Regions from separate parts of the Homo sapiens genome. Here regions 2 and 3 are each reported to be linked to region 1. The links are microRNA targets in miRTarBase. Many come from high-throughput screens and were not tested one by one. Region 1 holds a microRNA gene; each other region holds the end of a gene's coding sequence.

The links. The annotated mature microRNA hsa-miR-922 reads GCAGCAGAGAAUAGGACUACGUC and lies in region 1 at 4,765-4,787, shown strand. An mRNA with a match to its seed (bases 2 to 7 or 8) in the 3' UTR can be bound and repressed. Matches are read on the target gene's strand: a 7mer-m8 pairs with bases 2 to 8, a 7mer-A1 pairs with bases 2 to 7 and ends in A, and an 8mer does both.
Region 2: the mRNA of PCGF3 is a reported target of hsa-miR-922. Seed matches in the 3' UTR shown: 7mer-A1 at 4,919-4,925.
Region 3: the mRNA of TRADD is a reported target of hsa-miR-922. Seed matches in the 3' UTR shown: 7mer-m8 at 6,247-6,253.

The regions. Positions count from the first base shown.
Region 1 is chr3:197,672,098-197,679,284 of GRCh38, reverse strand. It overlaps MIR922 (microRNA 922), which reads left to right and starts at 4,709; the gene lies at 4,709-4,789. RUBCN (rubicon autophagy regulator) reads left to right here. Exons shown (of 20, transcript NM_014687.4): 17 at 1,744-1,805; 18 at 2,247-2,400; 19 at 3,770-3,863; 20 at 4,089-7,187. The coding sequence ends at 4,267.
Region 2 is chr4:765,615-772,801 of GRCh38, reverse strand. It overlaps PCGF3 (polycomb group ring finger 3), which reads right to left. Exons shown (of 11, transcript NM_006315.7): 11 at 2,713-6,770. The coding sequence ends at 6,723. The region is part of intron 1 of LOC124900163 (chloride intracellular channel protein 6-like); the gene reads left to right. The region is part of intron 1 of PCGF3-AS1 (PCGF3 antisense RNA 1); the gene reads left to right. Among named protein-coding and RNA genes, the nearest start is that of PCGF3-AS1, 13 kb to the left of the region's middle. RefSeq lists enhancers at 3,114-4,055, 6,759-6,818, 6,908-7,187.
Region 3 is chr16:67,148,287-67,155,473 of GRCh38, forward strand. TRADD (TNFRSF1A associated via death domain) reads right to left here. Exons shown (of 5, transcript NM_003789.4): 3 at 7,091-7,187; 4 at 6,810-7,008; 5 at 5,899-6,673. The coding sequence ends at 6,363. It overlaps PHAF1 (phagophore assembly factor 1), which reads left to right. Exons shown (of 16, transcript NM_025187.5): 16 at 1-258. B3GNT9 (UDP-GlcNAc:betaGal beta-1,3-N-acetylglucosaminyltransferase 9) reads right to left here and starts at 2,712. Exons shown (of 2, transcript NM_033309.3): 1 at 2,579-2,712; 2 at 1-2,385. The coding sequence starts at 2,199. The coding sequence ends at 991. RefSeq lists silencers at 2,068-2,497, 2,508-2,667, 7,164-7,187.

The DNA.
Region 1 (7,187 bases):
GCATAGGACAGTCTGGAGCCAGTTGTCAGAGCGTAGGACAGTCTGAAGCCACTTGTCGAGTTAGAGCGTAGGACAGTCTGAAGCCAGTTGTCAGAGCGTAGGACAGTCTGAAGCCACTTGTCGAGTTAGAGCATAGGACAGTCTGAAGCCAGTTGTCAGAGCATAGGACAGTCTGAAGCCAGTTGTCAGTTAGAGCACAGGACAGTCTGAAGCCAGTTGTCAGAGCGTAGGACAGTCTGGAGCCAGTTGTCAGAGCGTAGGACAGTCTGAAGCCAGTTGACGAGTTAGAGCGTAGGACAGTCTGAAGCCAGTTGTCAGTTAGAGCATACGACAGTCTGGAGCCAGTTGTCAGAGCGTAGGACAGTCTGAAGCCAGTTGTTAGAGCGTAGGACAGTCTGGAGCCAGTTGTCAGTTAGAGCGTAGGACAGTCTGAAGCCAGTTGTCAGTTAGAGCGTACGACAGTCTGGAGCCAGTTGTCAGAGCGTAGGACAGTCTGAAGCCAGTTGTTAGAGCGTAGGACAGTCTGGAGCCAGTTGTCAGTTAGAGCGTAGGACAGTCTGAAGCCAGTTGTCAGTTAGAGCATACGACAGTCTGGAGCCAGTTGTCAGAGCGTAGGACAATCTGAAGCCAGTTGTCAGTTAGAGCGTAGGACAGTCTGGAGCCAGTTGTCAGAGCGTAGGACAGTCTGGAGCCAGTTGTCAGAGTGTAGGACAGTCTGAAGCCAGTTGTCAGTCAGAGCGTAGGACAGTCTGAAGCCAGTTGTTAGAGCGTAGGACAGTCTGGAGCCAGTTGTCAGTTAGAGCGTAGGACAGTCTGAAGCCAGTTGTCAGTTAGAGCATAGGACAGTCTGAAGCCAGTTGACGAGTTAGAGCGTAGGACAGTCTGAAGCCAGTTGTCAGAGTGTAGGACAGTCTGAAGCCAGTTGTTAGAGCATAGGACAGTCTGAAGCCAGTTGTCGAGTTAGAGCATAGGACAGTCTGAAGCCAGTTGTCAGAGCATAGGACAGTCTGGAGCCAGTTGTCAGTCAGAGTGTGGGACAGTCTGAAGCCAGGTATCGAGTTAGAGCATACAACAGTCTGAAGCCAGTTGTCGAGTTAGAGCGTGGGACAGTCTGAAGCCAGCTGTCAGAGTGTGGGACAGTCTGAAGCCAGGTGTCGAGTTAGAGCGTAGGACAGTCTGAAGCCAGTTGTCAGTCAGAGTGTGGGACAGTCAGAAGCCAGGTGTCGAGTTAGAGCATAGGACAGTCTGGAACCAGTTGTCGAGTTAGAGCGTGGGACAGTCTGAAGCCAGCTGTCAGTCAGAGTGTGGGACAGTCTGAAGCCAGGTGTCGAGTTAGAGCGTAGGACAGTCTGAAGCCAGTTGTCAGTCAGAGTGTGGGACAGTCTGAAGCCAGGTGTCGAGTTAGAGCATAGGACAGTCTGGAACCAGTTGTCGAGTTAGAGCGTGGGACAGTCTGAAGCCAGCTGTCAGTCAGAGTGTGGGACAGTCTGAAGCCAGGTGTCGAGTTAGAGCGTAGGACAGTCTGAAGCCAGTTGTCAGTCAGAGTGTGGGACAATCTGAAGCCAGGTGTCGAGTCAGAGCATAGGACAGTCTGGAGCCAGTTGTCAGAGCGTAGGACAGTCTGCTCTGGGTGCAGCATGCAAGGCTTCTAGAACCCCAGGGTTTAAAGGCCCTGGGCTTCCCACACTGGATTCCTCTTCTCACATCTCCCTCCCACTCCTGCCCCCCTCTCTTTCTTTTCAGCTGCTGCGGGTCCAGCTGTGTCACATGAAGAACATGTTCAAGACTTGCCGACTGGCCAAGGAGTAAGTCCTTTTGGAGCTAGAGCCCTCTGGCCACGTTGCTGTCTCCGAAAGGGACACATCCCCGCGCTTGGCTCTTGTTATGTAACGAAGGAGAGTAGAGAGATTTTGCAGAACTGTAAAGTGGTAAACAGGAGGCCACAGCAGTAACTGTATCTGTGTCCTTCTCTCTGGAAGGGGATCTGTGGTCATTCCATCCAGGACAGGCCACCTCTCTTCCCAGGCTGGGTCTCACATGGGCCACTCTGCAGGAGCCTATAAATCAGTCACTCCTGCCATCCAGACACCTAATAGCGTGGAACGGCTGCGGCGGCCTGGAACCTTGGGCTGGCTGATGGGTGCCCACCCTCATTACTTTCTGCAGTTTCTGGATAGGGATCCTTCTACTACGATGTGGCACATGCACTGTTCATTCCCTCACCTGCCTCCTGTCACTCCCTGTAGGCTTCTGGATTCCTTTGACACAGTCCCAGGCCACCTGACAGAGGACCTCCACCTGTACTCACTGAATGACCTGACTGCGACCAGGAAGGGGGAGCTGGGGCCCCGGCTTGCTGAGCTCACCAGGGCAGGGGCTACCCATGTGGAGAGATGCATGGTGAGAAAGTCTCACTGTAGCATGCAGCTGAGCCCTTGCTTTTAGGGATACAGGGAGGGGGGTGGACCTGGGGTTCTTGCCACTTAGCTTGAGGAAGTTGAAATGGCCAGTCAGCACTGGGAGAGGAACTGGAAAGGGCTGCTGTTCCTTAGCCTGGAGAGCAGCCAAATCATCCTGATCTAAAGAACCTCGAGTGAGGGGAGGAGCTGGTGCTGGCTGTGGTCCTGGGTAGCTCCGGGCAAGACCGAGTAGACTTTCACTCAAGAAGTGTTGGCCAGGCACGGTGGCTTAGGCCTCTCATCCCAGCAATTTGGGAGGCCGAGGTGGGCGGGTCACCTGAGGTCAGGAGTTCAAGACCAGCCTGACGAACATGATGAAACCCCATCTCTACTAAAATACAGAAATTAGCCGGGCATGATGGCGGGTGCCTGTAATCCCAGCTACTCGGGAGGCTGAGGCAGGAGAATTGCTTGAATCCAGGAGGCGGAGGTTGCAGTGAGCCGAGATCATGCCACTGCACTCCAGCCTGAGCGACAAGAGTGGAAAAAAAAAAGGCAGTTGTCATGATGTGAGAGGAGAGCTCTGGATTGGAATCGAGAGGGAGTCTACCCTCGGCCGTCATTTGTTGTTCTCAGTCATTATGACCAAAATAAATACTTTGTCCCCTCTGAGGCCTCGATTTTCTTGGCTCTAAGATGAAGAGAATAATTTACTTTCTTCTCAGTATTTTTGAGGGTTGATGGGGTAATTTGTATGACAGCGTTTTGTATACTTTATGTATTCCTCAAACGCACGTCGTTATTGTCGTCATCTACTCAACATGTTGAAAATGCAGAAATTACACTTTTAGAACTTCCTGTCTTAGCCTATGCCCAGTTTATGTTCCTGTGACCGTCCCATAATTCGAGCTGGGCACAGGTAGGAAACCCTGTGTGTCTGGGAGGAACTGGAAATCCTTCACTACAACCTGACTCCAGGCTTGGAGCTGTGTTTGAGGAACAGCCTCGTCTCCACATTTTATCTTAATTGCTTGTGGTTCCTATTCTGAAATAAAATCATGACCCAGATGGGACTGTCGGCTTAGGAAGCCCTTTGTGGTGCCATTTCCTCCTTCTCCTCTCTTCATGGAGAGCCGCGCTGGGGGTCGGAGCTTCTCCGGCTGGTGCCTGTCTGATCTTCTGCCTAAAGCTTTGTCTAACGCTGCCCGGCCCTGGTCCTAGTTTAGCTTTCATGCTTCTGAGTCCAGCCCAGGCCTCCTCCCTGTGGGCAGCAGAACCCTGTAGACCACTCCCCTCCTCGGTGTTCACCCTCCCGTGCCAGTTCCTGATGTGCCGCTCCTCATTTTGCCATCTGTGTTTTTCCTCCCCAGCTCTGCCAAGCCAAAGGCTTCATCTGTGAGTTCTGTCAGAATGAGGATGACATCATCTTTCCCTTTGAGCTCCATAAGTGCCGGACCTGTGAAGGTGAGGGCAGGTGCAGGCATCGGGCAAGTGAGCCTGAACACAGGGCTCCTTGATTCCCCAGAGCCACCCCTGTTAGCAAGAGTTCGGTGCCACTCAGCACCTCGCGGGGCCTCCCCAGGGGACACCACGCCTTGGTGGCGAGAAGGGGCTGTGGCAGCAACTGACCTCTAGCTGGAGATAATACAAATTGTTTTCTTCTCTCCCCCACCTTCCCAACCTGAGTAGAGTGTAAAGCGTGTTACCATAAAGCCTGCTTCAAGTCTGGAAGCTGTCCGCGCTGCGAGCGGCTGCAGGCCCGGCGGGAGGCACTGGCCAGGCAGAGCCTGGAGTCTTACCTGTCAGACTACGAGGAGGAGCCCGCGGAAGCGCTGGCCCTGGAAGCCGCCGTCCTGGAGGCCACCTGAAGAAAGCACGTGCAGCCCTCCCTCCGGGCCGGGTCACACCTGTTGCAGAACTGAGCCACTCTTTGAAGGACTCGCCCCACCTGGGGCTTCTTTTTTTTTTTTTTTTTTTAATTATCATCATCTTTTTTTTTTTTTTTACTGACTTGTCTGACGTCTGTGTGCAGTCAGCCGTCGGCAGGTTGATGGGTCCAGAGTCTGTGGTGACAGATAATTTGTAAACACCAGGTGTTTCCATCAGAACTGACATGCGGGTCCTTCAGTGAAGCTTCTAGTGCCTCTGTCAGTGGAAGAGACAGCAAGACCAAGTTCTTCCAGCGTCTGTGGCCTTCTCCTCTAGGTTTCACCTGCATGTCAGGTATCATTTCCAATTTTCCTTTGTTTCAGTTCTGGAGCTTCTGAGCCAGGCCTTTCTCAACCACCTCTCCTGCTGCTGAAACGGGGATGGCGTTTTCCCTCTCCCTGTCCTGGACTGGGGTCAGACTGTGCCCCGAGGAGAAGCAGCAGAGAATAGGACTACGTCATGGGCATTTCGTCCACTTATTTGGGTATTTTGGGGGCCACAGAACAATCCTGACTATCCTAGACTCCTCAGAGACCTCAGAGGCAGCTGTGAATGTCCCTATGTTGCCGGGAGTTCCTGTTTGAAATATTTGAAGCATAGAGGATGCCACAAGCTGACTTTCTTCATCTACCTTGGTGATCTTGAAGCAAAGAACAGAACTGATGCTCAGGCCAGGCTCACCTGTAGCCTTACGCCGCAAGCATACGTGAGGCGCCAGCTCTGTCGCTGAAGGAGCGCTTACTCAGAGGAGCGGTCGGCCCCCTCTTGGTGTTAAGGTCTCTTAGTTAACCTGGCTTTTTGGTGCAGGTGTGATCTTTGAAGCTCAGGCAGGTCCCTGATGCCATCCTAAGGTGAGGACAGGAACCTCACCCACCATCTTCTTAGCGTGTCCCTGATGACTCTGTCCTCTGTTAGATGGTCGTTGTGCTTCTGAGTAAAAGTACAACCCGACTCCGTTCTCTCCCCTTCCTGCAGCAGAGCTGGGTCCTTCCCTGGTGGCCGAGTCTCTCTTGCCTTAGCTTCTTTGGTCAAAGTTGGAGAAAAGCTTCCTGCTATTAGTGCTGTTACAGAACTTGACGGTTTGTGGATGTGAGTGTGAATGTCCCTGTGTTCTTGGGATAACAAGAGCCTTTATGCCAATTATGCACTTAACTCTGTGTAGCCTGGTAATGTTTATCTGTTCATTTGATAATGCTGATTTTAGTGTGCTGCCCCCCTCCCCCCGTTAATGTGTGTTGATGGTGAAGTCCTTTTGATAATGCTGATTTTGGTGTGCTGCCTCCCCCTTCCCCCCCGTTAATGTGTGTGTTGACAGTGAAGTCCTTGGGTGGGGCCATGTGTGTGTTTGTGATGTTCCTTAAGTTGATGCAGCTTCTAACCTCTGTGAAAACACTGGTCAGAGTGGCTTCTCCAAGAGCTGGCAGCTCTGTGAACTAAAGCCTGCATCATTTTTGTTCTGGGATTGAATTCTGCCCATGGGCATGTCTTCTCATAGTTGCTTGCTGGTAGGAAAGAAATGGGCGTGGGTGCTGCCCTGGAAGCTGAGCGGAAAGTTGCCTGTGGTTGGTGGAAGCTGATGAGAGCTTGAGCTGGCGGTAAGAAGGAGTCTCCCAGGGAAGTGGGAGAGGCATTAAGGTGATGGCCAGGGCTGAGGCTCCACCAGCGTGAGAGGGAACATGTGGGAACTGGCCCCTGCCCTTGATTCCTCTGCCTCAAAGTTGGGATCTGAAAGCCATGTAGGGCTAGAAGACCCTGAGGCTGTTCTCCCTTCTGTTCATAGTGAGACTCAAAAAGCCAAGTCCCAGAAGTTCTGAAGGGCTGTGACTAGAAGTGCCCAGGTCCTTCAGGGAGCTTTAAGAATGACCCCACAGAACTCAAGTTTAACTAGGGGTTAGGTCCCAGATTCAGACCCAGGAGTTTATAAAAATGAGCTCTACTTCCAGTTTTGGTTTAAATTACACATCCAGGCCAGGCACAGTGGCTCACACCTGTAATCCCAGCACTTTGGGAGGCCAGTGCGGGCGGATCATGAGGTCAGGAGTTTGAGACCAGCCTGGCCAATGTGGTGAAACCCTGTCTCTTCCAAAAATACAAAAATTAGCTGGGCGTGGTGGCACACGCCTGTAATCCCAGCTACTTGGGAGGCTGAGGCAGGAGAATCGCTTGAACCTGGGAGGCAGAGGTTGCAGTGAGCCGAGATTGCGCCACCGCACTCCAGCCTGGGTGACAGAGTGAGACTCCGTCTCAAAAAACAAAAAGGTGACACATCCAGCTCTTTCTCCAGGTCACTGCGCTGGAGGACAGATGTGCCGTCTTGTCCTGCCTGTTTCACATCAGCATAGGATCAAAGGATGACAATGCTGACAGCTTCTGAAGCCGAACTCAACAGTCTCATAGGCTCCTCACTTGTCACTTATTTTTCCCTAGCTCCCTCAACCGCACCCCATCCCTTTAGATCGTGCGTCTGTTTTAGTGACTCTGACACGATGCCGTCCTCACCTTCCAAATACCCAGTTATTTATTCAAGAGGGGGGAAGTGGGTAGAGGATGGGATGTTTTGGAAGCACTTTGCAAGTTACCACTATCTGAAAATCCCCTGCTGTTGCGGGGAGAAGCTTTGAATGCACTGAAGAGAATTCCTTCTAAATGAAGGCAGGTGATAGTGTTCTTTCTGTAAGTAAAGGGAAAGAAAAAAAACATAGTTTGCTTACCAGGTGGAGACAAGATTCAAGACATAGCAGAAGAGTGGAAGACAAATATTTTCCACTTAAATGAGGCTGTTTTTGACGTTCTCTGCCAAGGATTTAGAGCTTTCGTTGAACTAACATAAAAGGAGTGCGAGTCTTAGTAGAGATGTTC
Region 2 (7,187 bases), not on the chromosome of region 1:
GCGCTGGCTCACGCCTGTAATCCCAGCACTTTGGGAGGCCGAGGCGGGCGGATCACCAGAGGTTGGGAGTTAGAAACCAGCCCAGCCAACGTGGTGAAACCCCGTCTCTACTAAAAACAAAAATTAGCCTGGCGTGGTGGCAGGTGCCTGTAATCCAGTTACTTGGGAGGCTGAGGCAGGAGAATCGCTTGAACCCAGGAGGCAGAGGTTGCAGTGAGCCGAGATCACACCACTGCCCTCCAGTCTGGGTGACACAGTGAGACTCTGTCTACACACACACACACACACACACACACACACACAAAGAAAAAACATAGGAATAAATGTAGTGGTCAAATGGTTGTTTGTCCAACGTCGACAGGAGTCTTATCCCTTGAGCAGGCCACACCTTCCCCAGGAATTGGCGTGGGCAGACACTCTGGGGTGGGCGGGGTGGGCCCAGGGGAGCATCTCCTTCCTCACAATTGGAGCATAAGCCACCAAAAAAAATGAAACAAATGTGCTTTGTGTACTTTCCTTGACTGAGGAGTAATGTGGGTAAGAGAAAGGACTCTTTGCTTATTTATGGATTTAGGACTCTGTGCTGATTTATGTAAGCACAGTTGCATTTCTGTGTAAGCGGAAGACAGATAATTCTTTCTATTAAAGGGGACGTTCAGTGTAGCTACTGCAGAGCACCGTCAGGACACAGGCCTCCCAACCAATGCAGGCTCAGCCCTCCACAGCCCCTCAGGAGGGACTCAGTGCATCTCAAGGGAGTTTTATCCTTAAAAACTAGAAGCCATATGGACATCTACTTTGGGAGGATTTGGTGGGCCTCAGGGGCCTCTAGCAGCAGAAGGCCCTGGCTTCCTGAACGCAGACGGTGCGGGTCTCATCACAGCAAACCCCCTTGTTTTTCTGTTCCTCTGCTGCCTTTCAGGGGACACTGTTTGGCTTTCACCCGGTCACAGGTGTACTAACACACATGACTAACACAGGATTTTTGTCTTATGCACACAGAACTGCATGGGAGAAACAAAACCACCAGCGAGCAGAGAGGCCGAGGCTTGGCTCTGCTGTGAGAGCGTCAAGGTCCCTGCAGCCCTGAGCTGCTGCAGAACCCACAGGAACCAACTTCCAGAGCTTGTTTCTGGGGTCCTGGTGCAGGGACCCCACCCACTGTGCTCAGATGGAGCTTGAAGCTCTCAGACCTCAGGCTCCCGTGGCTGCTATCACCAGGCTTCATGGCCCAGTCCCCAAAGTGGGTGGACCCAATTTTGAGGACTTGTGTTTCCCCTACTCCCTGCAGTTGACGCTGACATCAGTGTCTGCTTGTGGTTTCAGCCAGTATCTTGACATTTCTAAGATGGACAGATGGACTGGCCGAAAATAAGTAAAATACACTTTGAGTCAGTGAAGTCTTTTTTTTTTTTTTTTTTTTTTTTTGAGATGGAGTCTCGCTCTGTCGCCCAGGCTGGAGTGCAGTGGTGCGATCTCGGCTCACTGCAACCTCTGCCTCCCGGGTTCAAGTGATTCTCCTGCCTCAGTCTCCTGAGTAGCTGGGACTACAGGTGCGTGCCATCAGGCCTGGCTAATTTTCGTATTTTTAGTAGACATGGGGTTTCACCATGCTGGCCAGGATGGTCTCGATCTCTTGACCTTGTGATCCACCCGCCTCAGCTTCCAAAGTGCTGGGATTACAGGCATGAACCACTGCACCCCGCCAAGTCCTTTTTTTTTTTTTTTTTTTTTTTTTTTTAAATTGAGATGGAGTCTTGCTCTGTAGCACAGGCTGGAGTACAGTGGCGTGATCTCGGCTCACTGCAACCTCTGCCTCTTGTGTTCCAGCGATTCGCCTGCTTCAGCCTCCTGAGTAGCTGGGACTACAGGCCCCTGCCACCACACCCGGCTAATTTTTATATTTTTTAGTAGAGACGGGATTTCACCATGTTAGCCAGGCTGGTCTCGAACTCCCGACTTCAGATGATCAGCCTGCCTTGGCCTCCTACGGTGCTGGAATTACAGGTGTGAGCCACTATGCCCAGCCTAAGTCAATTAAGTCAAGTCTAAGACTGAACCTATTTTTAAAGTTTACTGCTTTAGGTTGTGAGAATATAATTTTGGCCATTCTCCTTTCCTTCCAATTCTGGTTCTCTTAAGAGTTTCAGAATTGTTGTATTTTACTTAACCTTTAAAAACTGAAATTTTGGCCATAGTGCTTTTTTTGGGGAGGGGCAGCAAATTGTCGTAGGGAGATGGAACATTCATTTGTCAGTTGACACACCTATGGGAATCAGTAAGTTCTTTTTTAGCCGTATTTTCCTTGGCATAACCAGCTCCAAACTGCAGCAACCTCTTTCTGCAAGGAGACAAACTGAGCTTTACAAAGTTTGTGGCCTAAACTCTGGTAGCAAATGCTGGACCAATTTAAATGAGGGTTTGCAAGCAGGGTGACAGTTTACAAATGCCGCCTGAAGCAAATCGAGACATTGGTTAACCTGGGAGTGGGGAGGGCTGGGGTGAGGAAGGGAGCCGTGGGCTGGTGTGTGGACATATGTGCAGGCATGTGGTCTGAGCGTACACATATGTAGCATGCATGTGTGTGTGTGCGGCCAGGCTGCCTGAGTGGTCCATCCAATACCCACAGCATTGCTCATCCCATGAGCAAGTCATCTCTCATGCTCATACAAATGATTTATGTAATACATTTCCAGCCAGAAACACTTTCACTTAAGCTTTTCTTTTGCTTTTATTACAAGCATATAATATTAATTGGCAAAACACTGAATACAAGCTTCACTATCATAAAATCAAAACATTTAAGCAATATTCCAAAAAAGATTTGACAAAAACTAGCCACCAAGAGTACAAAAATTACACACCAACACAAAGCATAAAAAATGTAAACTTTCAAATTAAACAGTCAAACACATGTATCTTCGTGATCACCTCCACACCTCGACTGCCTTCGTCTGCCGTACGCTGCTGGTAAAGGCTGGGTGGCTGCACTGTCTTCCCCAACCCAACATTGCTTTCGTCTGGGAAAATGCGTCTGATAGGCAATTAAGCCATGGGAGTGGACATTTACACGGAGGCTACGCACATCTCAGGGGAACGCTCAAACTGCAGCTCGTTCCTCAGACGCACTGTTGGGTGCGAAGGACACCTGGAGGGTGAGGGAGACCTCGGCGCGTTCCTGCAGGGCCTTGGCCACGTGGCCATTGCCCGCACCCTGTCCCGTACAAATTATGGTATCATTTGAATGATTTTCTAATCTACTTATCTCAATTTATGTATTTAAATGTCAAGGCAGAGAAATACATTGATCATGTTAAGGTCATGTGATGTGGTGGCGCAGTAATGACTTCCTGAGGAAACAGAGAAATTGGATGTTTTGTGATTTAGCTATGTGCACTAAACTTATTTTCCATGTTTTGAGAGCACATTAAACATTCACGTACAACGTGGGACTAGGTTGGCTTGTACCCAGAACGTCCAACCCAATGCCACCCTTTGAATCGCTGTGAACACTGTTCTGTTGCTGTTCAGAGAAAACAAGCAAGGCTGCGAAGCCCGGGGGTGCAGGCAGCTGCAGTGCTTGGGCCAGGGCAGCTCCGCTCTTGTGGTCTGAGGCCACATGGCCCTGCCCAGGGGCAGCCTGGCCACAAGCACGTGGGGTCCAAGGCACCAGGACCCAGGCAGGACTGAGGTGGCCCCACAGCGTGGCCCGAGGCATCACTGGCTGACGGGCACTCACACACAACCCCAATAACAGCATTCTCACAATAATAACAATGAAAAACGAAAAACCAAACAGCTGAATGTACATATTTTGGAATTCCATCTATGTTCCCTTTCAATTTAGCAAAATAAATGCTACATTACCATTTAAACAGATGTCTAATAAATGCATATTGGAACCTATTGCACAAAAGCATAAAAAATGCTCTTCATCCACATAAAAACATACAAATTAAAAGCTACTCAAAGTAAAAAGAAGCTTGCAAAACATCTCACAATTTCATTTTATATGCCTGTAAATAAAGCTGGACCACTGAAACCAAACAATTGGATGGGAAAATATGATAGAAGGCTTAAAATAGAATAAATAATTTTATAAAGTTAAGTTTTCTTTTTTAACCCCCCAAATCTTAAATTCAATATTATATATTCTATTTGAATTTTCTATGTCCATGAAAACTGCATCGGTGAGACCGTATTCCGGGTAATTAGCCCCACTGCTGTTGAAAACGACGCATAAGGTGATTTAACAGCATTTGTTTTACCAGCATAAATAGTTGTGAAAACTTCTTCACAGTAACTCCATCTGTTTAAAAAAAAAAAACCAATAGAATCCAACCACTAACCGATCCTGGCTTTCATGCTGGAAAAAATGAAATTCAGCCTTTTTCTGTGAAATGAGAGGTTGACAGAAAGGAAAGAAGGCCGCCCAGAGGCTCCACAGACGGCAGGGCCATTGCGCTCCAGCCTCCAACGACTAAGGCTGCAAGGTCAGACGAGAGGCAGAGGCCCCAGGGCCGAGTCCTGTAGTGAAGACTGTCTGCACGATGAACTCCTAGAAAAATAGGGACTTCTGCTGCTGAGGTTTTGTCAGGTTAACGCGGTTACAAAAGCAGGGTCACCACTGGCTGAAGACATCGACACGGGCGCCACTCGCCCGTCTGTGTATTTAAATCTATCAGCTTAGCACCATTGCAAAGTCAAGTGATTTCAAAGATAGCTACAAAGTTACAAATATATATTATGAGATTATTACAATGATATTCAGTTTCATCTGAACTGTGATTTAATTTTATTTGAATTTGGAGGCTTGTAACTGTTTAATCCTTTCTTATTCCGCCACACAGGAAAATGCCTAAGTTCTAACGTTACACTTAAAACTGCACTGTGATAACACACGGTTGTACAGAATGCTTCAGCAGTATGTGTATTTTGAGGTAGACAGGTAATATTTATTCATACACAGCTACTCATAGACCCTTATACAGTGACTCTAGAAAATGATTTGGATGAATAGCAAGCTTAGGTAACTGAGTAACTCAAACCGTCCTGGGAGTTGATGGGCTTAAAGAAAGAGATGAATTTTGACCAATTCCTAACAAAGAACTTGCTTTTGTTTTAAAAGGCCTTACACTGACAATCACTCAGATGGAATTAATATGCATGTTTTTCTCATCCCTAAGATAAGGTCTCTTGAGCTGCTTTTTATCTAAAGGAAGCAGAAGAAAACAGCGAAATTCAAGAAAAAAAATCTCCAAGGTGGTTGGCTTCTTGGAAAGCCTGAATGGTGGCCAAGGACCACCTGGGCTCCCAAGGAGTGGAGGGAGGAGGGATTCAGTTCCACAGGAAATAAATGGGAACAGCCCGGTGGAGAAGACAATGACAACTGCAGGACAACACCTCAACCACTCCAGAAAACAGCCCTTGCTCCTCCTTCTGGCCTTTTCATATTTCCAAGTTACTGTTTTAAAGGAAAAAAAAAAATGTGTGTGTGGCTGTTTATTCTCTAATGTGACAAAAACATGACCATCCGGGAGGAGAGGGGCTAACGGTGCAACCAACTGAGGCTGAAACACAGATTCAGCTGAAATGCAGCTTCTGCAGAGCGGGGGCCGGCTTCCCTCCTAGCCCTTCAGCTGCTCACCCTGTCCCTGCAGCTCTGAAAAACGCCCTTCCAGTAAGCGGCCAAGGAGCACACGAGCTCCTCCCACCAGCAAAGGGGAAGGGGAGGCCTTGGACAGACGGGGCAGTGAGTGTGTCTGGGCATGAGCCCGAAGCCACCACCAGCAAATCCTCCCCACGGATGCCAGGAGAGCTCTGATCCTAACCACCACCACCTCTCCCTTCAGCAAAATCAAAACAGGGAAAGAAAACATAGGAAACCAAACGGCGGCACTCAACAATTTGGGGGAACAAGTAATTTTTAAAAGTAAGAGTTGTTCCGTAAACCAGCACTGAGCTGGTCACACGGCCTCTGGTCTACCTGCTGAGCATGTCAGAAATCCCGACGTGGCGTCTGGGGCCCCGTTTCCAGGGCTGGGTGTGTCAGCCACAGGTGAGCGACAGTTCTGAGTGAGTCCAAGTGCCGACCTCACACAATGAAAGGCGAACCAGTCAGGGAGCTGCTGTTGTGTTTCATAAGGTGGGAAATTAAATACAATGGTTAAATCATAATGTTAATGGAAACCTCTTTTGGTTTGCTTTTAAATTAATTTTTTATATAACTTCTAAATCTTCAAGAAGCTAAAGGCAACATAAATATTGTCATTCACCATGAAAAGACATTTTTTCAATAACTTAGGAAGGATTCAATAAAAGTCCAACTACACTTGAGGCTTATCATGAAACCTAAAATTCATAAACTAAACTGAAGTGAATTCAGATTTTCAAGACCTGGAAAGCAAGCAGAGGGAGCTCGTGTCAGAAGGTGACTCAGAACCGTGTTGCCTGGAGCATCACTCTCCCTGCAAGGCTGAAGCACGGGGTGGGGCGGGGGAGAGGACGATCGGCTCTGGGAGACTGTGAAGTGTTTTCATCCTCTGTAAACGTGGTGCTGGTAGTGTCTTGTTGAGTGTGAATTCTCTCTCATACAAAAGTTATAAATATTCTCTATTCAGAAGTCTGGTCCACATGACACCCAGAGGCAATGTTCTTAAGCGCGGCGGCCGGGAGCACCCAAGGGTGCGAGGGCCCAGTCTGTGGGCGCTGTGTGGCACCATTCACAGCAAGTCCATCTTGGGTCTGTAGTGCAGCAGGAGCGGCGCCTTCTGGAAGACACAAGAACGCACAGTGCCTGCTTAGCAGGGGTGGAGGCGAGAAGGACCTACTTCATCGGGAAGGGTGCTGAGGAATCACGTCCCGTGAGGCACAGTCCACATGCAGGGCTGCACAGAGACCCTTCTGTTCTGAGCAACAGAAGGGTCCCCCAGAAGTTGCTGGGGGAAGACGGGCTAGGAAGACATGTGCCCTCTCCCCTGGCCCCAGGTGACCCAGTGACCACTGTGCACACCGTGGTGGCCACCTGTACCTGATGTGGCCCTGGCTGCCACTCCCCTGCCCCCTTCTCCCTCAAACCCTCTGGCCCAGCCCCAGGCCAGCCTTGGCTCCTCCCCCTCTCCCCAGGCAGCAACACCAGCTGAGGTGGGAGAGTTCCACCATTGGTTTCCTGCTTCAGAGGGGCCCAA
Region 3 (7,187 bases), not on the chromosome of region 1:
TATGGTTCCTGGGCCTTATAGCCAGGTTTGTGTGGCGCTCCCGACTTTTGTGACTGACTGGTGTCTTCCCATTTGGACTGTGGCCTGGCCAGAGCCCCTTGCATATCCCCACTGTCAGGGGCAGCCAGGACTGTTCCCATCCTCCTGGAATGGGGGAACCTTCCTTATCCCCTGCCCACATCCCCTCTCCAATAAAGCACCTGTGCCCTCAGCAATGGCCTGCCATGTGCTGTTGCTGGGATGTTTGTATTAAGGTAAGTGTGGGTATTGGTTTTTTGAGCAAGGGGGTGGTTGAAGCATATGGGGAAATTAATAGTGGTGGCATCTCAGGGGAAGACATTCCTTGGCTCCTCTGAGGGGATACAGCCTCCAGTGGGAGACTGGCATTGTTGTGTGAGTTCAGGAGGTGAGGAAAGACTAGGTAGGACCGTGCACTCATTTGTCCCTTATGTGTGGCTCCATCCCTGGTGCTCAGCCACACCTGGGCCCAGGAGAGGTTGTGGGAAGCATAATATCTGTTTTCAGATGAGCTATGGCAAAGTGCCTGCCAGGTTCATGAATTCAGGCTGTGGCGGCCGGAGCCCCTCCACCTCCCTGTGGGGCCTGGCCTTGAGAGCCTCTGCATACGTCCGCGTCAGCCTAGGGGGTTCCAAATCCAGCAGAGTGGTAGGATTCCCTAAGTCCCTGCCACCACACCAGAACACACCTCTGTGCTACTAGGAGGACCAGACATATCCACTGCTCTGGGACCTGTTGGACAAGAGATGGTCATCTACCACCCAGCCTTGGCTCGCTCAAAGGGTCACCATTACACGGGTTTCAACTGGTTCCAGCAGGGTGGACCGCCAGGAGCCAAGCTTAACCCCCATCCCCTGGGATCCTGTGGAGACAGGCACCTGGTGATCAGGGAAGAACCACATACACGGCAATAATCTGGGAAACCGGCTCCATTCTGGGTCTGAGTTAGGAGCTTGGGGCTGTAGTGGGGAGCTAGGAGTCCCATTGGAAGGGGCCTGCAGCGACAGGCTGTGGATGCGCACAGGCTGGCCCATGCGGCCCGTGCAGCAGGCGCCACATAAGCCAGATGTCAGCGGCCGAGAGCCCGTGCACTACAACCAGCTCACGGTAAAAGCAGGGGTCGAAGGTGCTCAAATGCGGCGCGGCTGAAGGCTGGGGGATGCCAAAGGTGCGGAAGGCAGGGTGAGGCTCGGGCGTGAGCCGCAGGCGCTGCAGACACATGCCCAGAAAGACGTCGTCGATGGGGAAGAGCTCGACCTGCGCACAGGCGCCAGCCAGGCGGTGCAGCGTGGCCCCGGAAAGCACAAAGCCACCGCCGCCCGCGTAGGCCGGATAGGCGGGCAGGCCGTACACGGCCTCGGGGATGTAGTACTTGCTAGCCCGCGTGCGGATGGGCCGCGCATGCACAATTACGTCACCAGCAAGCAGGTCTTGCGCCGGGTCCCGCGGCGCCAGGAACTCCAGGAGATTTCCCACGTTCACGAACACATCTGCGTCGCCCTTAAAAACGAAGCGCACGTCGGGGCAGAAAGCTGAGGCCCAGGCTAGAAAGTGGATCTCCTTGAGCGTTAGGTTAAAAAAGGTGTCGTCGAAGGCCCAGAGCAGGATGTCCGCATACGCAAGGCTCTCGGCCCGCAGCAGGGCGCGCCAGTGGGTTCGCGCGCCCTCCCCAACTTCGTCGGCCCCGCCCGAGCCTGCGCCCCTGGGCACGCCCAGCAAGAACACGCGGCGCACCAGCGCCCCCTGCACGCGACCCTCCGCGCCCCACGTCTGGCGCACGGCTTGGCGCCGCTCGAAGTCCTCTGCCACCGACTTGACAGCAATAAGCAGGTCCGGGCGGCCACCGGGTGCGCCGTCGCCGCGGCACTTGTGCGGCTGGTTAATGAGCAGTGGAAACCGCCGCTGGTCCTTGGCGCGCAAATAGCGGGCGAAGTCAAAGGGTCCCGTAGGCGTGGGCGGCGCCGGTGTGTCCCCTTCGTAGGCCGGCGGGGCTGCACCCGCGTCGGGTAACTGGAACGCGCGGGGTCCGGGGGTGGGCCTCGGTGCCGCCCTCCCTCGCCCTCGCGGCGCGCTCGCCGTCGGGGCCGCGCCGTCGCGCTGCGCATAGAGTAAGAGGCCCAGGGAGGCGCCAAGGAGCAGCGTGAGCAATGCGTCCCTGCGTAGGCGCAGCCTCCTCCTCATCTCCGCGCGGCCTGCGCCCTCCCTCCCCTGTAAGGGTCGCAGTCGGCAGCAGGGGGCAGCGAGCCCCGCCCTCCCCAGCTGAGGGGGCGGGAGGCCACGCCCCGGGGGGGGCTCCAGCGACCGACGGTTGAGCCCCTTGCGTTGTTCTCCTCCTCCCGGCCGTGTCGCACCGCCGGGACCGGCAGCCTGAAGGGACAAGAAGTTCACCCATGTAGCCAACTCCCCCGCGGCCTCAGCTCCGGCCCAGGACTGCGACCCAGGGCCGGGCAGGGAGACTGGGAGCCTCGGCCCCTCCCCCGCCCGCCTCCCTCGCGCTGAGGCCGAATCCCTTCCACCCTGCCATCCCCTCAATGTCGGGCCCTGGGGTCCCGACACTCACGCTCGGCCCTCGGAAGTGGCGCAGCCCCGGACGCCCTGGCCTCCGGGGCTCAGCGCAGGGTCCGAGGGGCCGCCATGGACCGGGCCCGAGCCAAATGCAGCGTTGGCAGGAAGGGGGACCGGTGCCGTGCCACGTGACCCTCCAGCTGTGCGCGCCCAGACTTCTGGAGCTCAGCTCCGCCCCGGCGCCAGGAGCACTCCGGCCTCAGAGTGGGGACTAATCCCTGAGAGGGAGCCTCCTCACTCTCAGTCCCTCTGGGAAGGGCTGGTCTGGGTGCTCACACCCCAAATTCGCCTTTCTGGGGATTGGGAAGAAGCATCAACTCCCCTGGTTAGCTCCCCCAACTATCCACTCCCCACTCCCGCGTCTCTGGAGTGGGGCGGAGCCTGGGCTGCTAGGAGCCCCTGAGCAGGCCGGTTCCAAATGCGCATGAACCTGGCCACCATCCCGGGCGGGCCTCTCCTCAGCAGCCCTGATTCCATCAGGCAGGGTGCATACGCTGCCCCCGAGACACATGGCTGTCTTCTTACTCCTGGTTCTGCCATGCTCCCCACCCCCAGTAAACACACGCACGGGACAAACAAGGCAGCCCACCCAATCCTCAGGGCAACTCTGCCAGCAGCTCTCATTCATGCCCAGATGGGGACACTGGGGGGCTCTTCGGGGAGTTAAGTGACTTGCCCAGGATCCAAAGGCCAGAAAGCTCTGCCCCCAGGTCTTCTGAAATTCAGGCCAGGATTATTTTATCTGTCCTTGCCCCGCTCATTCATCCACTGGGATACAGAACAGGGGGCCAACCCAGTCTGCTTTAATTTCACAGGCAAGCACTTCAGCCTGTCTCCCCGGGGGCTAATGGACCTGAGCCCAAGCCAGGTGCAGTTCTGAGTCCCCTGGTCCCCAGCATAGCCTACTGCAGGTAGAAATGATCAGGCCTGTGCAGCTGCAGGTCAGACAGGGCTGGCAAGGATGGGGACAGCTTGGGAAGACTCCTGGCGGAGGCCTTGGCTAAAGGATTGCTCTGGGATGCAGGTGGACAGAGGTGCTCTGCAATGGAGAGCTAAGTCCTTGCGCAGCTCAGCTGCCAGCTCTCTCTTTCTTGGTCCCAGCCCATGTGGTGGAGCCTGGAATAGACAGCCTCTACTGGTCTCTTAAGAACCCAGCCCCATCCTCTGTCCAAGGGCTATATCTGCTCCTGACGGCTTCTTCCCACCAATGTTCAATCTTAAAAAGCCACCTCTCTGGCTGGGTGTGGTGGCTTATGCCTGTAACCTCAACACTTTGGGAGGCTGAGGTGAGTGGATCACTTGAGGTCAGGAAGTCAAGACCAGCCTGGCCAACGTGGTGAAACCCCCATCTCTACTAAAAATACAAAAATTAGCTAGACATGGTGGTGGGCACCTGTAATCCCAGCTACTTAGAGGGCTGAGGCAGGAGAATTGCTTGAACCTGGAAGGTGGAGGTTGCAGTGAGCCAAGAACACACCACTGCACTCCATCCTGGGCAACAGAGCGAGACTGTCTCAAAAAAAAAAAAAGGCCAGTCGTGGTGGCTTACTCCTGTAATCCCAACACTTTGGGAGGCCAAGGCAGGTGGATCACTTGAGGCCAGGAGTTTGAGACCAGCCTGGCCAACATGGAGAAACCCTGTCTCTATTAAAAATACAAAAATTAGCCAGGTATGGTGGCACGTGCCTGTAATCCCAGGTACTTGGGAGGCTGAGGCAGGAAAATCACTTGAACCCGGGAGACGAAGGCTGCAATGAGCCGAGATCGTGCCACTGCACTCCAACCTGGCAACAGAGTGAGACTCTCTCCAAAAAAAAAAAAAAAAAAAAAAGCCAAATCTCCACCCTGAGCCTTACTCTTTTTGGTCACAAAGTAATCAGGAGTCCTCTGCTCCAGCTTTCTCCGCGGCCTCACCTTCCATTCCCTCCTGTGATAAAGCTTCGGGCTGCCTCCACCATGACTCAGAAAGACCCCTGACTGGTAAGCTCCTTTTAACTGAGTCCAACAGACACTCCTCGGTCTTGACTACCCGCTCCATTATAGTGGGTGGGTAATCCCCTGGTTTCCAAATCTCCTGGTTTTCCTCCTTCCTCTTTGGCTGTTCCCATTCTGGTTGGTGTCCTTCAGGACATCCCCTGGGGCCACCCCACCCACTCCCCACCTGTCTATTCATCAATCTTTAGATTGAACCCTCATCCTGAACTCAGAACTACAGACCCAACTACCCTCATACTCTCTCCCCGGATGCACTGCAGGAACATCATGCTCAACTTGTCCCAAACAGAGCAAGCATTTCATTTCCCCCCAGGGCCCCATCCCAGCAAGCAGTCCCACCCACCATCCAACTGGCAAAGGCAGAAACTTGGGGCCCTCTCTCAGCCATTCCTCACCCAGTGTCACCAGGCCTGTTACTCTTCCACCCACACAGCTCTTTGGTGGTCATCCCCTTCCCTCCATCTCTGCTGCTACTGCCCCAGCCTGGGGCCACCATTTCCCCCACCCCCATCCTCATCAACCTCCCAGTCTTGGCCAGGTGCGGTGGCACATGCCTGTAATCCCAGCACTTTGGGAGACCAAGGTGGGTGGATCACCTGAGGTCAGGAGTTTGAGACCAGCCTGACCAACATGGAGAAACCCCATCTCTACTAAAAATACAAAATTAGCTGGGCATGGTGGTGGGCGCCTGTAATCCCAGCTACTTGGGAGGCTGAAACAGGAGAATTGCTTGAACCCAGGAGGTGGAGGTTGCAGTGAGCCAAAAACGTGCCATTACACTACAGCCTGGGAAATAAGAGTGAAGCTCCATCTGAAAAAAAATTAAAATTAAAAAAAAAAAAAAAACAACCACCTCCCAGTCTTAACTCCCGAAACTCTTCAAAGGCTTCCTACTGGCCTCATTGAAAAACCCACAAGCCTTCCTCAAGCCCTTGCCTGAGACTGTGCCCCGAACACTGCCCTTCTCTCGATAGCCCACCCCTATGCCTACTCACACTCATCTCCTCCAGGAAGCCTACCCCCTGTCCCCTGCCCAGGTTAGGCCCCTTCCTCCATCCTCCACAACTTCTCTTTTTTTTTCTTTCTTTTTTTTTTTTTTTTTTTGAGACAGGGTCTCACTCTGTCACCCAGGCTGGAGTGCAGTAGCTCAGTGACATCTCACTGCAGCCTCAACCTTCCATGCTCCAGGGATCCTCCCACCTCAGCCTCCTAAGTGGCTGGGACTACCCAGGCTGGTCTCAAACTCCTGAGCTCAAGCAATCCTCCTATCTCTGTCTCCCAAATTGTTGGGATTACAGGTGTAAGCCACTACTACTTGTATTTCTCACATCAAAATCCGTGTTATACTTTATTATCATTGCTTAACATTCGGGGTCCCACGCTGAGTGTGAGCTGGGGGCAGGCAAGATTGATTCCTGTTTTACTTCACTGCAGTATCTGCAGCACCCAGGATGAAGTCCAGGACACCAAAGATCAAGGTGCTTCATGAGTGAAACTGTAAGGGCTGGCTGTAAGCCCCGCTTCTGGGATGGGAGAAGGTGAGGCTGATCTCCAAAGCAGGTCCCCCCCACCCCACACTCTATCAAAGTACCTGAGGCAGAATCCCCAATGATGCACCCCCAGTGGTCTGGCTCCTGGGGAAGGCAATCAACTCTGCCCCAGCAGGTCCAGCAGATAGGCCAAGTGGAGTTTCAGGGTCCCGTGGATGGACAGGGGTTCAGCAATAGCCGCAGAAGGAACCCTAAGGCCATCCAGGTTCTCCAAAAGCTGGCTGCACCCCTGGTCTAGGCCAGGCCGCCATTGGGATCGGTCAGGCCCAGCAAGTCCTCTGCCAGGCTGGTGAGCTCGTTCTCCTCGAGTGCCTCCACCAGGCGCTGCAGCGTGGCGCGGCGGCCCTCGGCCTGCACGAAGCGCCGCAGCAGCTGGAAGGCCTGCTCGTACAGTCCCTCGCGCTCGTACTCGTAGGCCAGCGAGTCCAGCGCCGGGTCCCGCAGCGCCCGGCAGCCTCGCTGCAGTGAGCGCCCCACCTTGCGCCATTTGAGACCCACAGAGCGCGCGAACGTCTGTTGGTCCTTCAGGCTCAGCGGCCGATTCACTGCAGAGGGAGTGGGGAAACGGGGTGAGGGCGGGGACCCCCAGCGCCGGTCCCACCCATCCCCACCCGGCAACGACCCCTGCCCCTCCCCAGACTCCAACCTCCTGGTGACCCCGCCTCTCCACCTGCGCCTCACCTACAGGCTGACCCTGGAACAGAAAAGTCTGGGCAGGTGGCGGCGGCGGCGGCGGCTTCACCTCCGACAGAGAGGGCACCGGGGGCTGCAAGGGGGCCGAAGCGACCTCCCCGTCGCCACCCCGGGCCCCCGAGCCGCACTTCAGATTTCGCAGCGCATCCTCCAGCTCAGCCAGTTCTTCATCCCGGAGCCGGTCGGGCTAGGGGAATGGAACGTGCCGTCACGGGGGACTTAACCGCGGATCCCCGCCCTACCCCATCCTGACCCTAGCCCGGCCGCACCTGCTGGGCTAGGATGCAACTCAAACAGCGCTCCTCGTCCGCCAGCAAAGCGTCCAGCCGCTCGGCGCCGGCGCGCAGCTCCAGTTGCAGCGGCACC